Linked DNA regions of Homo sapiens: region 1 is reported to be linked to region 2. The links are microRNA targets in miRTarBase. Many come from high-throughput screens and were not tested one by one. Region 2 holds a microRNA gene; the other region holds the end of a gene's coding sequence.
The links. The annotated mature microRNA hsa-miR-6753-3p reads UGGUCUGUCUCUGCCCUGGCAC and lies in region 2 at 3,505-3,526, opposite strand. An mRNA with a match to its seed (bases 2 to 7 or 8) in the 3' UTR can be bound and repressed. Matches are read on the target gene's strand: a 7mer-m8 pairs with bases 2 to 8, a 7mer-A1 pairs with bases 2 to 7 and ends in A, and an 8mer does both.

Region 1 (5,434 bases), not on the chromosome of region 2:
CGGCATCAAGGCACCCTGAGCCCGTGCCCGAAGAGGGCTCGGAGGATGAGCTACCCCCTCAGGTGCACAAGGTAAGGGCCCCGGGGCCTAGGAAAAACTGCCAGAAATAGTAACTTCCAGGGTGAGGTAACAGCTTTTCAGGGGAAGGAAGATATGCCCCACCCCCACACAGAGATACTGTACCCTCCCTTCCAAAACACACTACCCCTTCTTTTCTCAACTGCTCTGCAGGGCTTGGTTTTTCCTTACCTTACCTCCCCAGGAATCAACCTTTCCTGTCCCTTTACCTCTAGGTTTCTATGGGGCTAGCAGGTATCAACCAGAAGCTGAAGACTATCTCCATTACCAACCCTTTCTCCCCACAGGTATAGACAAGGCTGAGCAGGGTTCCTGTGGCCCAGGATGGAGGCCACCGCTGCCCTGCCATCCCGTCTGCCTGCCATGGGACGGCTCCTCTGAGTGTTCCCTGGCCCCACGTGTGTGGTGTTTGTGTGTCTGTGCCTGGCCAAGGGAGGTGCCAACACTGGGCTTGCCACAGCCCCAGGAGAGGAATTTGGGGCCTAGGAACCGAGGGCACACGGGACTCTAGCCTCATCCCCAGGACCCCCTTGGCTCAGAGTGTGGTGCTAGAAACTGGCCCCCAGCCCAGCCCCAGTACTGCCACCTTTACACCTACCCCTGCAAGTCCCCAGAGGGCTGCCCACGATAGAAGCTGCCAAGCAGGGAGAACCTGTGCCAACTGTGGAGTGGGGAGGTTGGGCCTGGACCCTCAACCCCTGCAACCTTCCCTAGCCCCCTCAATAGATGAGCAGGTCAGGCTGTGGCCCTTACCTCACCCGCAGTTCTCGCCCAGTGCTGCAGCCGGCTCACCTCTCTCCGCTTCTTGCACATCACTGGCCTGTGTGTGCTGCTTGCTCCTGTTCTGTTCGCTTGCTCCCGTTCCGTTCGGCTTTTGCTTTGCGTTAGGGTGAAGACCCTAGCGTCCAGCTCCCCTCAACGCTATATTTTGACACTAAAAAAGAAGGTTTCTAAATTGTAGGAGCAGGATGGAAATACTTTGCTGCCCTTGCCATCTTTTAGGATGGGCCCCCAGGAGACTGAGGTCTTCCTGGGCCCTCATTGCTGCTTATCGTACCCCCCATCACCTGCACATGGGACAGACCGGGCTGGAGGGTGACCTTGGCTGTGTGCGTCCCAGCAAAAGAGCTCTGGCCCGCATCTCGCTGTGCCCTGAAGGGGGATGAAGGGCGATGCCTCGCCCGAGGCTTTGGGCTGCTGCACTGCATGCTGGGACTGCTCCTACTCTCTGTCCCACCCCTCACCCAGCTGTGGTCCGGCTTTGGGAGAGTGGTGAATTGCGCTGCCCGAACTCGGAGCGGAGCAGGGTAGGGACCGTGTACAGCTTGATAACCCTTAATAAAAAGGGAGTTTGACCAGACTTCTTGTTGTCTCGCGCGGCTAGAATCCTGGGAACAAGAGAAATGGGATGGGGACTCTGCCGGGGTCTAGAAGAAAGTATGTTTAGGCCGTCGCTCAGATACGCTGAGCAAGGCGGCTGGCGGAAGGGCAGCTTCCGACCCACAGTTCCGTGGAGGTCTGTGTCCTGCCCCGAGCCAGGATTCCGTGAGGTCTGTTTCCAGCCCCGAGCCACGATTCCGTGGAGGTTTCCAGCTCGGCCTGGTCGTCAGATTTCCCGCCCTGGGCACGTGACCAAGCCGGCTCTGCTTCTCTAATTTGCATTCGTTGCCTGCACCATTCCCCCCGCTCCCCCCTCGGAGACATTTGGCCAATGGGAGCCGTGGGTAGGGGCTGTGGGCGGGGCTACAGCCGTGGAGCGCGGTGCGAGTCCAACACCGAGCATTCCCGTGGGCCTGCAGTTGGCAGGAGGGTCCCGGGCCCAGAGCCAGCGGGGCCGTGCTGAGACGGCGTACGTGCCCTGCGTGAGTGCGTGGCGGCGGCGCGTGCGCTAGGGGAGTGGGCGGTGAGGCCTGGTCCACGTGCGTCCCTTCCCGGGACCCCCGCAGCTTGGCGCCCAGCGGCTACGTGAGCCAAGGCACCCGGATGTCCGCGCCCCTCTCCGAGTGACCAGTCCCGGCCTCCGGTCCCGCAGTGCCCGCAGCCTCGGCCGGCGTCCACGCATTGCCATGGTGACTGTGGGCAACTACTGCGAGGCCGAAGGGCCCGTGGGTCCGGCCTGGATGCAGGATGGCCTGAGTCCCTGCTTCTTCTTCACGCTCGTGCCCTCGACGCGGATGGCTCTGGGGACTCTGGCCTTGGTGCTGGCTCTTCCCTGCAGACGCCGGGAGCGGCCCGCTGGTGCTGATTCGCTGTCTTGGGGGGCCGGCCCTCGCATCTCTCCCTACGTGCTGCAGCTGCTTCTGGCCACACTTCAGGCGGCGCTGCCCCTGGCCGGCCTGGCTGGCCGGGTGGGCACTGCCCGGGGGGCCCCACTGCCAAGCTATCTACTTCTGGCCTCCGTGCTGGAGAGTCTGGCCGGCGCCTGTGGCCTGTGGCTGCTTGTCGTGGAGCGGAGCCAGGCACGGCAGCGTCTGGCAATGGGCATCTGGATCAAGTTCAGGCACAGCCCTGGTCTCCTGCTCCTCTGGACTGTGGCGTTTGCAGCTGAGAACTTGGCCCTGGTGTCTTGGAACAGCCCACAGTGGTGGTGGGCAAGGGCAGACTTGGGCCAGCAGGTGAGGGACTCTGTGGGAAGGGGGAAGCCTCTGCTGGCCGGGCTTGGGAGAAAGCACTGCATGTCCAGTCACACTGCTTCCAGGCTTTAGGATGCCTCTAAGCAAAGGGAGAAGGGAGGGGCTGAGTCCTGCCGGGAGCTGATAGCCAGCTGGTGGGGTGTGTCTTTGCTGAGTCACTGTGGTTTTGCTTTTTTTTTTTTTTTTAAGCCTGTAAGTGCTGAATGTGTTCATGACACCAGTCCCCGGCCCTATTATAAGTAGTAATACAATGAAATTTTATCCTCAATGATACTCTCTCCACTTATATTTCATTCTAGGTTCAGTTTAGCCTGTGGGTGCTGCGGTATGTGGTCTCTGGAGGGCTGTTTGTCCTGGGTCTCTGGGCCCCTGGACTTCGTCCCCAGTCCTATACATTGCAGGTTCATGAAGAGGACCAAGATGTGGAAAGGAGCCAGGTACACCTCAGTTTCTTTTTTTTTTTGGAGACGGAGTCTTGCTCTGTCACCAGGCTGGAGTGCAGTGGCGTGATCTCAGCTCACTGCAACCTCCACCTCCCGGGTTCAAGCGATTCTCCTGCCTCAGCCTCCTGAGTAGCTGGGACTACAGGTGCATGACACCACACCCAGCTAAGTTTTGTATTTTTAGTAGAGACAGGGTTTCACAGCATTGGCCAGGATGGTCTCGATCTCTTGACCTCGTGATCCGCCTGCCTCAGCCTCCCAAAGTGCTAGGATTACAGGCGTGAGCCACTGCGCCTGGCCTCTTTTTGTTTTTAAGACGGAATCTTGCTCCGTCACCCAGGCTGGAGTGTAGTGGCGCGATCTCAGCTCACTGCACCCTCTGCCTCCTGGGTTCAAACAATTCTCGTGCCTCAGCCTCCCAAGTAGCTGGGATTACAGGTGTGTACCCGGCTAATTTTTGTATTTTTAGTGGAGATGGGGTTTCACCATGTTGGCCAGGCTAGTCTTGAACTCCTGACCTCAGGTGACCCACCTGCCTCGGACTCCCAAAGTGCTGGGATTACAGGCATGAGCCACTGCACCAGACCCCACCTCAGTTTCTGAATCCTGGAGTCTCTTCATTTCATTCCCTGTCATCATTCCTTCCCCCAAAATGAAATGCTTCTTTTCCAAATCTCAGTTTGCAACTTAGTTTTTCTGACCCCATCAAGGATCACTTGTGGGTCTGAGATACCTGGGAGCTGTAACCCCATAGGTTTTTCCCTGAAGGGTTTCTGGCTAGTGCACTTACTTGATTTCTGAGCTCCCTTCCTACGTGTTTCACCATCCTAGGTTCGGTCAGCAGCCCAACAGTCTACCTGGCGAGATTTTGGCAGGAAGCTCCGCCTCCTGAGTGGCTACCTGTGGCCTCGAGGGAGTCCAGCTCTGCAGCTGGTGGTGCTCATCTGCCTGGGGCTCATGGGTTTGGAACGGGCACTCAATGTGTTGGTGCCTATATTCTATAGGAACATTGGTGAGCAGGAGGAGCACCAGCTCAGTGTGCTGGTCCTTCATCAGCCTGGTGGCTGGGATGGTCCTTACCTAGGGAGGTGGGACAGAGCTGGGTGGTCAGAAAGAGACTGTGGCTGGTACCTGGGGCCATTTTGCCTGAAGAGAGTCCTGGGCGCCATAAGTGGGTTCTGACTCGTTTCCTCCACAGTGAACTTGCTGACTGAGAAGGCACCTTGGAACTCTCTGGCCTGGACTGTTACCAGTTACGTCTTCCTCAAGTTCCTCCAGGGGGGTGGCACTGGCAGTACAGGTATGAGAGACTCCGCCCTCACCCTGCTAGGTATAGGTCCCTCCCACAGGCATTCCCTCAGCATCCGCCTCTCCCAGCATTCCTCCCCAGCCCCCATGTACTCTCAGACCTTTCACATCCTGGTGCTGGGCTGACGTCCCTCAGCTCCCAGGCCCTACTGAGGCGTCCCCCGGCTCCCTGCAGGCTTCGTGAGCAACCTGCGCACCTTCCTGTGGATCCGGGTGCAGCAGTTCACGTCTCGGCGGGTGGAGCTGCTCATCTTCTCCCACCTGCACGAGCTCTCACTGCGCTGGCACCTGGGGCGCCGCACAGGGGAGGTGCTGCGGATCGCGGATCGGGGCACATCCAGTGTCACAGGGCTGCTCAGGTGCCGCCCCAGTGGAAAGGGCATGTGGGAGGGTGGAGCCGGAGAAGCAGGGATAGGGGCCCGTGGGAGGAAGAGAACAGACCCCGCCTGAGAAGCTGCCGCTCCCACCTTGGTGTTTTTTAAAGTATAGGATTATTGTATACATGCTCTCCTAATAACTTAGGTAATGCGGGCAGAGGGCAAATCTCTTTCGAGCTGCACTTACTTTTTCAGAGCTTCCCACTCTGTTTAGTATGTTGGGTTCTGCTCTTTTTTTGAGACAGGGTCACGCTCTGTCACCCAGGCTGGAGTACAGTGGCATAATCTCTGCTCACTGCAACCTCTGCCTCCCGGGTTCAAGCAATTCTCCTGCCTCAGCCTCCTGAGTAGCTGGGATTACAGATGTGCACCAGCATGCCTGGCTAATTATTAGATTTTTTGTAGAAACAGGGTTTCACCATGTTGGCCAGGCTGGCCTGGAACTCCTAGCATCATGTGATCTGCCCACCTAGCATTCCAAAGTGCTGGGATTACAGTTGTGAGCCATTGTGCCCAGCTGGGTTCTGCTTTTTTGCATTTTTACATACATATTATATATGCAGACTCACAGAACTAATATGGCATTGTGGAGGTT
Region 2 (5,000 bases):
GCCAGGCATGGTGGCGGGCGCCTGTAATCCCAGCTACTCAGGAGGCTGAAGCAGGGGAATCGCTTGAACCCGGGAGATGGAGGTTGCAGTGAGCCAAGATCACACCACTGCACTCCAGCCTGGGCAACAGAATGAGACTCTATATCCAAAAATAAAAAAAAGAAAAAAGAAAATCACTTCCACAGAGGGTTGGGAACAGTGCTTGGCACAGTGCAAGCTGCAGGCTGGTTCCTGTCCAGTCTCGCTTTGCCTCTGCACACTCAGGAGACTGGTTCCTGGCTGGTCTCGCTTTGCCTCCGCACACTCAGGGGACTGTGATGCAGGCTCCGCAGGGCAGGAGGCTTGTCTGCCTCTTGTGCTGAGGAAAGGGCCTGGCACACAGGAGTGCTCAGCGACAGCGCTGCAGGACGGCTGAACCGAGGGGAGCCCCAGCCCCCACTCCCAGCTGCCTTCACCACCCACGGACACTCCATCCCAGGACTCACAGGATCGATGCCAAAGGGGTAGGGTCCCAGGAAGACACCGGTGACGTTGGGATCCAGGGTAAGCATCGTGTGCTGGGCCAGGAATGCATCACTGCGGCAACGCAGGGGAGGGCGGTCAGGGCTGCGGGTGCTGCGGGGCCCCCAGCCGGGCTGGGGCCCGGGCCTCACCTCCAGCCAGACTGGTTGGCCATGGCGGCCACACTCCAGCCCGAGGGGAAGATGCTGGTGGCGCGACTGAAGCACTCGTTGTAGATGAAGCCGGTGTAGATGGAGAACAGGCCCATAAGCAGGAGCAGGTAGCGGCCCCTGAAGAAAGTCTGCCAGATCTGGGGGGGCAGTGGTGTGGTGAGGGGCTGCCTGGCCCTGCTACCCTCATCAGGACCCCAGCCCCGCCCCTCACCTCGTTCTGCGCGGCCTTCACAGCCGGTCGGTTCTCCGCAAGGACCATGGCCAGGGCGAACAGGAACATGAGCAGCCCGTGGCCCACATCCCCGAACATCACAGCAAACAGGAAGGGGAAGGTGATGATGGTGTAGGGAGCTGTGGGCAGAGGTGGGTGAGCTGGGAACCCCCGAACACACCAGCATCTGCCTCCCGGCCCAAGACGCCACGGAGGCCCTGCTGGCCTGCAGTCAAGAACCCATCACTTAGCAGCCAGGCACAGTGGCTCATGCCTGTAATCCCAGCACTCTGGGAGGCCGAGACGGGGGGGGGGGGGGGCATCACCCGAGGTCAGGAGTTCGAGACCAGCCTGGCCCACACGGTGAAACCCTGCCTGTACTAAAAACAGAAAAATTAGCTGGGCATGGTGGCAGGTGCCTGTAATCCCAGCTACTCAGGAGGCTGAGGCAGGAGAATCATTTGAACCCGGGAGGCGGAGGTTGCAGTGAGCCGAGCTCGCGCCACTGCACTCCAGCCTGCGCGACAGAGCGAAGATTCTGTCTCCGAAAAAAAAAAAAAAAAAAAGAACCCACCACTTAGGAGCTGTGTGACCTTGGCCCAGCCACTTCACCTCTCTGAGCCTCCATTTCCCCATCTGTAAAATGCAGGTAACACCAGACCACTTCATAAGTTCTCCACGGGCAGCACGGGCCAGCTGCTGGAGCCACAGGAAGTTAGCAGCTTCAGCTGTTGCTGTTCCCAGAGCTCCACACAGAAGCCAGAGAGGACAGGGAGCCACAGGCAGCCCCAGCTGGCACATGGCAAGTTCCGGGAGGCCGAGCTGGTCACTTCAGCTCTGAAGTCTCGACTTCCCATCAGTAAAATGGGAACAAGTCCTCATGGGAGGCAGGAGGACCCCAACATACACACTGTCAGGGGCTGTGTTGTGACCCCAAAAAAGATACACTGGAGTCGCAACCCCCAGGAACTCCAGATGTGACCTTCTTTGGAGACAGGGTCCTTACAGAGGTCACTGGGTTAAGATAAGGCCATTACAGTGGGCCCCAATCCAGTGTGCCCGATGTCCTTATGAAAAGGAACATTTGGACCCACATAGAAGGAGAACAGTGTGTGAAGATGAGGACGGCCGCTCCAAGCCCAGGAGAGAGGCCGGGAACAGATCTTCCTGGACAGCCTCAGAAGGAGCCACTCCTGCTGACAACACCTCATCATCTTTTATTTTTTTAAGATACAAGGGCTTGCTATGTTGCCCAGGCTGGTCTCGAACTCCTGGACTCCAGAGATCCTCCTCCCACCACAGCCTCCCAAAGTGCTGAGATCACAGGCATCAGCCAGTGCCCCCGGCCCCTGCTGACACCTTGGTCTTGGACTTCCAGCCTCCAGGACTGTGGGACCGTGTCTGCCCCTTAAGCCAGTAGCCGGTGGCACTTTGTTACAGCTTCCCTGGCAAACACGCTGCCCCGACGGCTGGTGCTTTGAGCTGGCAGCATTCTATCTGCCACGGGCCTCCAGGTGATGCTCTAGCTGCACCAGCCTCTGCCCACGTGCAGGGGAATCCTGTTGGGGCCCAGATCCAGCCCCAGGACACTGGCCCTGCAGAAGCAGCAAACCCCCCAGTGCCCCCAGTGACACTGAGTGGGGGCCCGGCCCATAGCATGGGTGTGATGTGGTGGAGCCCATGTCGGGAGGGGACTTGGTCACAGGACAGGGAGGGGCCCTGCCTCATCCAGTGGGCAAGAGTCAGGGTGCTTGGGCCCCCAACGGCCTGTGTGGGTGGATCACGTGAGGTCGGGGGTTCAAGACCAGCCTGACCAACATGGTGAAACCCCATCTCTACTAAAAATATGAAATTAGCCAGGCGTGGTGGTGCGTGCCTGTAATCCCAGCTACTTGGGAGGCTGAGGCAGGAGAATCGCTTGAACCTGGGAGGCGGAGGTTTCAGTGAGCCGAGATCATGCCATTGCACTCCAGCCTGGGCAACTGAGCAAGACTCTATCTCAAAAAAAAAAAAAAAGCTGTGCAACCAAAGCAACCACACCAAAGGCTGCCCCTGGCTCCAGCTTGCAGTCTCCAACAGTCACTAAGCTTCCCAACATTCCTCTGAGGTTTGCGCTATTATTTCCATTTTGCAGGTGAGGCAGCTGAGGCTCAGAGAAGCTAAGAAATGTCTCAAAGTAGGCGAGATGGGCTTCCAACCTGGGCCATGCCCACCGCACAGCCTCTGTTCTTTGCACAAGCCCGTGCCGGCTCCCTTGTAAACTCAACAAGGGGGAGTTGGCTGGGGGCCGACATAAAGCCTCACACTGGCTGCAGAGCCCAACAGCCCCTTGAGAGTGATGGGATGTGTGCCCCTCATCCCAGGAGGGCAGGCCAGGCCCAGGATGGAGATACCTCCCCCTCAGGCTCACACCCACCCAGTGGGGCAGCTGAGCCTCCCAGGACACGGGTAAGGATGCCGTGGCTCTCACCGGGGTTGACCTCCTGGTAGCGGCCCACGCCGTAGGCATCCACGATGCCCTGGAAGCTGGCCGTGAAGCGGTTGGTGCGGATGAGTGTGGGGGGCATGTCCCGGCAGGGGATGCGGTGAGCCACGGCACTCACTCCCTCCTCCATCTGGGTGCCAGGGCAGAGACAGACCAGAACGGTGGCGGGGGCCTTCAGGGACCCTGGGATCTCCAGCCAGGCCCAGCTGGAGATGTAGAGCCCTGTGGGGGCTCACTGGGCAGCCCCTTCCCCTCTCTCTGACGTGAGATGATCAGCCCTGCTCTGCCCTGGTGGGGGCCCAAAGACACCACATGGATTGGCAATTGCTTGGGAAAGGCAAGCATGCTGCCTCCTAGGGACGGCCCAGGAGAAGGAGCCCAGCCTCACCCGCAAGCACCTGCTGTGCGCGGCGGGTGACCCCCGGAGGCAGGGGCATCACACCGGTTCCACAGACCATGAGCAGGCCTAAGGTCACAGGGGGGCCTGGATTGGAATGAGGCTTCTGACTTTAAAACTATCCTGTGCAGCCTCCAGGGACTTAGGAAAGTCAGGGTAGGGCTTGCTGGGCCAGGGCCATCAGGGCAGACTCCCTGGAAGCGGTGGGCCATGGAGGAGGCTGGGAGGAGAAGGAGCCCCTAGGCAAAGCCCAGGTGCAGGGAGCCAGAGGCTGGAAGTGAGGCAGAAACGCCCCGGCCTGGTAGGAGGGGCGGGCGGAGAGGGGGCGAGGCCTCAGGCTGCTCACCGAGCTGTCCCGCAGGGCCTCCTGCAGGGCGGGCAGGTCTCGCACAGAGCACCAGGCCTCGGCAATGAGGCACTTGTGCGTGGTGCTCACGCTGCACTGGTTCAGGGCCAGGTACACGGCCTTCATCTTGTGGACCTGCACCTGCCCTGGCGGCAGCAGCTGCAGCACCCGGCCTAGCACCTGGCTCAGGAACCGCTCTGTCTCCCCGAGGACCTGCGCCAGAGTGGGCAGTCAGCGGGGGCTGGGCAGGCAGGTGGGGTGGCTGGGCCGGGGGCACCCACCTCCTGCACCCACCTCCTGGAGGCCAGGCCAGGGCACCCACCTCCTGCACCCACCTCCTGGAGGCCAGGCCAGGGCACCCACCTCCTGCACCCACCTCCGGGAGGCCGGGGGCACCCACCTCCTACACCCGCCTCCGGAAGGCCGGGGGCACCCACCTCCTGCAGCTCCTGGCTCTGCTGTTGCAGCTGCTGCAGGGCCCCGAGGCGGGCCTCCTCCTGCTGCAGAAACGGGAAGACGTGGCAGTGGAAGCTGGAGGGAGGATGCGCTGCGTGAGGGGCCAGAAGGACACAGCTACGAGACTCTGAGTCTGAAGGGAGCTCATGGGGAGGAGTCACGATAGGGCGGGCTGGGAGGTGACAGCAGGGGCCTGGGGAGCAGGGCGGTGGGGCGGGTGTTCCCAGTGACTCACCAGTCCGTGATCTTGCGGATCTTCTGTCCGATCTGCTCACCCCAGTAGGAGATGAGGAAGGTCATCCACGTGGCTGGCTCGCCCTGCAGAGCAGGCTCAGCTGACTCTGGGGTCCCGCTCTGCCCAGGACCCCCCAGCCCAGCGCCAGCTGCTCACCGTCACGGGGTGCTCCAGCGGCTGCTCCAGCTCCCTGAAG

Region 1: the mRNA of ATG9A is a reported target of hsa-miR-6753-3p. Seed matches in the 3' UTR shown: 7mer-m8 at 1,157-1,163.

The regions. Positions count from the first base shown.
Region 1 is chr2:219,215,384-219,220,817 of GRCh38, reverse strand. It overlaps ATG9A (autophagy related 9A), which reads left to right. Exons shown (of 16, transcript NM_001077198.3): 15 at 1-71; 16 at 366-1,438. The coding sequence ends at 371. ABCB6 (ATP binding cassette subfamily B member 6 (LAN blood group)) reads left to right here and starts at 1,860. Exons shown (of 19, transcript NM_005689.4): 1 at 1,860-2,693; 2 at 3,011-3,148; 3 at 3,986-4,166; 4 at 4,353-4,454; 5 at 4,638-4,821. The coding sequence starts at 2,145. RefSeq lists a silencer at 2,421-2,530 and an enhancer at 1,776-2,643.
Region 2 is chr11:68,043,458-68,048,457 of GRCh38, reverse strand. MIR6753 (microRNA 6753) reads right to left here and starts at 3,664; the gene lies at 3,501-3,664. TCIRG1 (T cell immune regulator 1, ATPase H+ transporting V0 subunit a3) reads right to left here. Exons shown (of 20, transcript NM_006019.4): 6 at 4,961-5,000; 7 at 4,805-4,887; 8 at 4,551-4,644; 9 at 4,114-4,326; 10 at 3,356-3,500; 11 at 886-1,025; 12 at 654-811; 13 at 486-576.